2 separate regions of the Homo sapiens genome follow, and region 1 is linked to region 2. The links come from fine-mapping of genetic effects on gene expression. Tissue or cell type: whole blood. Region 2 holds a variant in brackets; the other region holds the start of a gene. All regions are shown on one strand. Distances are between the middles of the regions.

Evidence for each region. PIP is the estimated chance that this variant, and not a neighbour inherited with it, causes the effect.
Region 1: it holds the start of SUMF1, and the variant in region 2 is fine-mapped to the expression of SUMF1 in whole blood (INTERVAL, PIP 0.95).

Annotation. Positions count from the first base shown.
Region 1 is chr3:4,465,699-4,468,381 of GRCh38, reverse strand. SUMF1 (sulfatase modifying factor 1) reads left to right here and starts at 1,113. Exons shown (of 9, transcript NM_182760.4): 1 at 1,113-1,406. The coding sequence starts at 1,137. It overlaps LOC124909340 (a long non-coding RNA gene), which reads right to left and starts at 1,558. Exons shown (of 2, transcript XR_007095789.1): 1 at 874-1,558. RefSeq lists an enhancer at 887-1,066 and a silencer at 1,237-1,416.
Region 2 is chr3:4,359,690-4,362,372 of GRCh38, reverse strand. SUMF1 (sulfatase modifying factor 1) reads left to right here. Exons shown (of 9, transcript NM_182760.4): 9 at 119-1,227. The coding sequence ends at 229. Among named protein-coding and RNA genes, the nearest start is that of SETMAR, 58 kb to the right of the region's middle. The variant T/G (reference allele first, on the strand shown) is at 1,408.

The sequences.
Region 1 (2,683 bases), 110 kb before region 2:
CCTAAAAGCCTAAAAACAAAATTTACAGCAATTCCTTAATTTTATCAAATATTATAATTTGACTTAGTGGTTAAATTTCCCTGATTATCTCAAAAATTTTGAACTCAGTAGGTTTGAATTAGTATTTAGATAAGGTTCACATATTGCAGCTGGCTGCTATGTTTTTTTTTTTTTTTTTTTTTTCAGATGGAGTCTTGCTCTGTCCCCAGGCTGGAGTGCGGTGGCGCCATCTCGGCTCACTGCAAGCTCCACCTCCCGGATTCATGCCATTCTCCTGCCTCAGCCTCCCGAGTAGCTGGGACTACAGGCGCGTGCCACCACGCCGGGCTAATTTTTTGTATTTTTTAGTAGAGATGGGGTTTCACCGTGTTAGCCAGGATGGTCTCGATCTCCTGACCTCGTGATCCACCCGCCTCGGCCTCCCAAAGTGCTGGGATTACAGGCTTGAGCCACCGCGCCCGGCCTGCTATGTTGTTTTTTAATCTGTAAGTTTCTCCTTCATCTTCTTTTTGTTTTGGTTTTGCATTTTGTTCGATTACGGAACTGTAGAACAGTGGTTCTTAAACTTAAGTGTGGATTAGAATCATCTGGAGAGCTTGTGAAACCCTGGATTGCTGTGTCCAGTCCCCACGGATTCTGATTCCGTATTGTATTTCTCTTTTTTTTTTGAGACGGAGTCTTGCTCTGTCGCCGAGGCTGGAGTGCAGTGGCGGGATCTGGGCTCACTGAAACCTCCGCCTCCCAGGTTCAAACGATTCTCCTGCCTTGGCCTCCCGACTAGCTGGGACTACAAGCGCGCCATTACTGGGTCTTTGTGAGGATTAAATGAGATTTTAAAAAGTGAAGTGCTTAGCATAGTACTCTGGCACTTACCAAATGCCCAGCAAATTTGACTGTTATTTTTCAACCAAGAAATCATAAAGGGGTGCACGGTCTGTGGAAGGCCTTGAGTTTTGTGGAGTTTTGTGTTTTGCTGCGTTTTGACGTTAGCACAGGCAAGCAGCAGCGCCAAAGAAGTACCTGAAGAAAGGTGAAGAGCAACTCTCCTGGTCACTTCGTAAGTCAGCTCAAAATTCTGCCCCTTTAAGGAGGGCTCAGCCACGTGACCAACCGGGTCACATGGCCCGCGGGACAACATGGCTGCGCCCGCACTAGGGCTGGTGTGTGGACGTTGCCCTGAGCTGGGTCTCGTCCTCTTGCTGCTGCTGCTCTCGCTGCTGTGTGGAGCGGCAGGGAGCCAGGAGGCCGGGACCGGTGCGGGCGCGGGGTCCCTTGCGGGTTCTTGCGGCTGCGGCACGCCCCAGCGGCCTGGCGCCCATGGCAGTTCGGCAGCCGCTCACCGATACTCGCGGGAGGCTAACGCTCCGGGCCCCGTACCCGGAGAGCGGCAACTCGCGCACTCAAAGGTGCTCCATCGATTCCTCCGAGGCGGGTGGGGGCTGCTCGGTTCCTGGACGGGGTTGGAGTAGGCAAAGCAAGGCACTAGTAGGAAGGGAAGTAAAGGTTATAACCACACCCCAAATCGAGCACCTGCTGTTCCCGTATGAGGAGTTCCTTCTCCGTGCCTCACCGGAAGACTCCATTTAATTGACCATTAGGGAGTTTGGTTTGAGGGTTATTGTTACTTCTTTACCCCCTATTTCTTTCTCCCTCCAACCTGTTCTCTTAATGAGGATCTCATAATTTTAAGGCAATCAAATTATGGTTTAAATCACCATTTCCTCTCTTATTAACGGAATAAATTAGGATCCTGGGTCTCAGTATCTTCACCAGGGTTGTTGTATACTTATCTGTAGTCTCCTCGAGTACACTCTGCTTGAGGACAAGGGCTTGAATTGTTTATCCTGCTATTCTTAGCACTTTAGCACTTAGGAAGGGCTAAGCAAACTGTAGTTGTTTTATTGCTATTATTTATCTGTCTTGCTTAGCGCCTGTATGTGTTAGGTGCCGGGATATATAAATAACTTACTGGCCGGGCGCGGTGGCTCACATGCCTGTAATCCCAGCACTTTGGGAGGCCGAAGCGCGCGGATCACGAGGTCAGGAGTTCGAGACCAGCCTGGCCAACATGGCGAAACCCCGTCTCTACTAAAAATACAAAAATTAGCCGGGCGTGGTGGCGGGCGCCTGTAATCCCAGCTACTCGGGAGGCTGAGGCAGGAGAATTGCTGGAACCCGGGAGGCGGAGGTTGCAGTGAGCCGAGATCTTGCCACTGCACTCCAGCCTGGGCGACAGGGCGAGACTCCGTCTCGAAAAAAAAAAAGAAAGAAAGAAATAACTGTTACTTCAATCTGTCTGCCCGGTATTTTGCATATTGATGTGTTGTCGAAACAACTTATGGGTCTAAAGGTCAGGTCTTCTGACTCCTAAACTAGTGCTCCTTCTTGTTTACTTAGCAGACACTATCCTTTTCCCATTCCATTTTTCTTTCCTTTGGGTTAATCCTGACCAATATTTAGGACTTAGGTGAGAGGTAACATCCACAGTAGGTTTTACCTGATCTCCTCTTTCTCTCCCCTTCAATATTTCCGTATCCTGCCTCAGTAGTTATGTGTTTATTCTGACATAACAATTATTAAAGATGTTTTTCTGCTGATGTCTCTCCCCAACTGGACTGTGAGGGTGATGGGGTCAGGACCATGATTTAGTCTCTCAGGTGTAGAGTGTAGGAGGTTGATACCT
Region 2 (2,683 bases):
CATACAGGCAGGGTTGTGGGGAAGCACTGTCTACAGCCGGTGCAATATGCATCTGATGGGTTAGAGCCTTCAGCTGAGAGTCCCAGTAGCACTTACCTTGCTCTTTCTCTCTACACAGTCTTATTGTTACAGGTATCGCTGTGCTGCTCGGAGCCAGAACACACCTGATAGCTCTGCTTCGAATCTGGGATTCCGCTGTGCAGCCGACCGCCTGCCCACTATGGACTGACAACCAAGGAAAGTCTTCCCCAGTCCAAGGAGCAGTCGTGTCTGACCTACATTGGGCTTTTCTCAGAACTTTGAACGATCCCATGCAAAGAATTCCCACCCTGAGGTGGGTTACATACCTGCCCAATGGCCAAAGGAACCGCCTTGTGAGACCAAATTGCTGACCTGGGTCAGTGCATGTGCTTTATGGTGTGGTGCATCTTTGGAGATCATCACCATATTTTACTTTTGAGAGTCTTTAAAGAGGAAGGGGAGTGGAGGGAACCCTGAGCTAGGCTTCAGGAGGCCCGCGTCCTACGCAGGCTCTGCCACAGGGGTTAGACCCCAGGTCCGACGCTTGACCTTCCTGGGCCTCAAGTGCCCTCCCCTATCAAATGAAGGGATGGACAGCATGACCTCTGGGTGTCTCTCCAACTCACCAGTTCTAAAAAGGGTATCAGATTCTATTGTGACTTCATAGTGAGAATTTATTATAGATTATTTTTTAGCTATTTTTTCCATGTGTGAACCTTGAGTGATACTAATCATGTAAAGTAAGAGTTCTCTTATGTATTATTTTCGGAAGAGGGGTGTGGTGACTCCTTTATATTCGTACTGCACTTTGTTTTTCCAAGGAAATCAGTGTCTTTTACGTTGTTATGATGAATCCCACATGGGGCCGGTGATGGTATGCTGAAGTTCAGCCGTTGAACACATAGGAATGTCTGTGGGGTGACTCTACTGTGCTTTATCTTTTAACATTAAGTGCCTTTGGTTCAGAGGGGCAGTCATAAGCTCTGTTTCCCCCTCTCCCCAAAGCCTTCAGCGAACGTGAAATGTGCGCTAAACGGGGAAACCTGTTTAATTCTAGATATAGGGAAAAAGGAACGAGGACCTTGAATGAGCTATATTCAGGGTATCCGGTATTTTGTAATAGGGAATAGGAAACCTTGTTGGCTGTGGAATATCCGATGCTTTGAATCATGCACTGTGTTGAATAAACGTATCTGCTAAATCAGGCTTCACCGTCATCAGCTTCTTTTCTCTTTCTCTTCTTTATGTTTTCTTTTAAAGAGAGGACTTTGTGATATGCGTGTTTTATTTGCTAGAAAACGTTCATGTTTGTTAGCTAATGGATAACTTTGATATGTGGGTAATTTGTGGGAATTTTTGTTCCAAAAAGCAAGGCTATTCCACCAG[T/G]AACCCTATCATGACCTTGCTGCTTGTTGCCACAGTAGATAATGCCAAGTCAAAGGCACTGCCTCACTTGTGGTCTTGTAAAACCCAGCATTTGCTTCCCATGCCGGGAAAGCACCTTGTTTTAGAACAATAGCTTTCAACCTAAGGTCCCTGTTATCAAGTTCCCATCCTGATTCCTCAGTCCTGAGAACCCCTAAGCCATTTCTTGCATGCCATTTGAAAGAAATGTTTAAATCAAATAATATTCAAAAGTGTCTAACCAACACTTGAATGCTACTTTTGTGCTTAGCCTCTTAACATGTTAAAACAATTCCCTTGAAAAGCAGTCATGTAGGCCAGGCCCAGTGGCTCACACCTGTAACCCCAGCACTTTGGGAGGCCAAGGTGGGTAGATCACTCAAGGTCAGGAGTTCGAGATTAGCTTGGCCAACATGCCAAAACCCTATTTCTACTAAAAATACAAAAAATAAAATTTAGCCAGGAGTGGTGACACTTGCCTGTAGTCCCAGCTACTCAGGACTGAGCCAGGAGAATTGCTTGAACCTGGAAGGCGGAGGTTGCAGTGAGCCGAGATCGCGCCATTGCATTCCAGCCTGGATAAGAGAACAAGACTTTGTCTCAGGAAAAAAAGAAAAAAAAAAAAAAGTCATGTAGCTGGCACGTTTAGCCACATTTGTGGTTCATTTTGTAGATATCAAATGTTTCTCTACAAACTTCCACCTACTGATGATTAATCCCAGGCAAAAAAAAAAAAAAAAAAGAACAAACATTGGTAGCAAATAATTAATGTAGGAAATAAGAGATTTTATTTTTAAAGTCACCCTACTCCAGTACAGTTTGTTTTTACTTGTTACCTCCCGCCTGCATATATTTTTTACATTGTTATATTTATGGTGTGTCTATTTTGAATTCTTGTCTTGTTAATGTTACATTGCGTAAGTATTTTTGGTGTTTTGGGTGTACTTTTTAGAATTGCATTTCTAGCAGCAGCATAATACTGGAAGGCATTTAAAATGAATTCCTAAGTTGGGGACGGTGGCTCATACCTATAATCCCAGCACTTTGGGAAGTCGAGGCGAGAGGATCGTTTGAGGCCAGGAACTTGAGACCAGCCTGGGCAACTGAGATGGTTTGACTGCGTCCCCACCCAAATCTCATCTTGAATTGTAGTTCCCATAATCCCCAGGTGTTGTGTGAGGGACCTGGTGGGAGTAATTGAATCATGGGGGCAGTAACCCCCATGCTCTTCTTGTGATAGTGAGTGAGTTCTCACTAG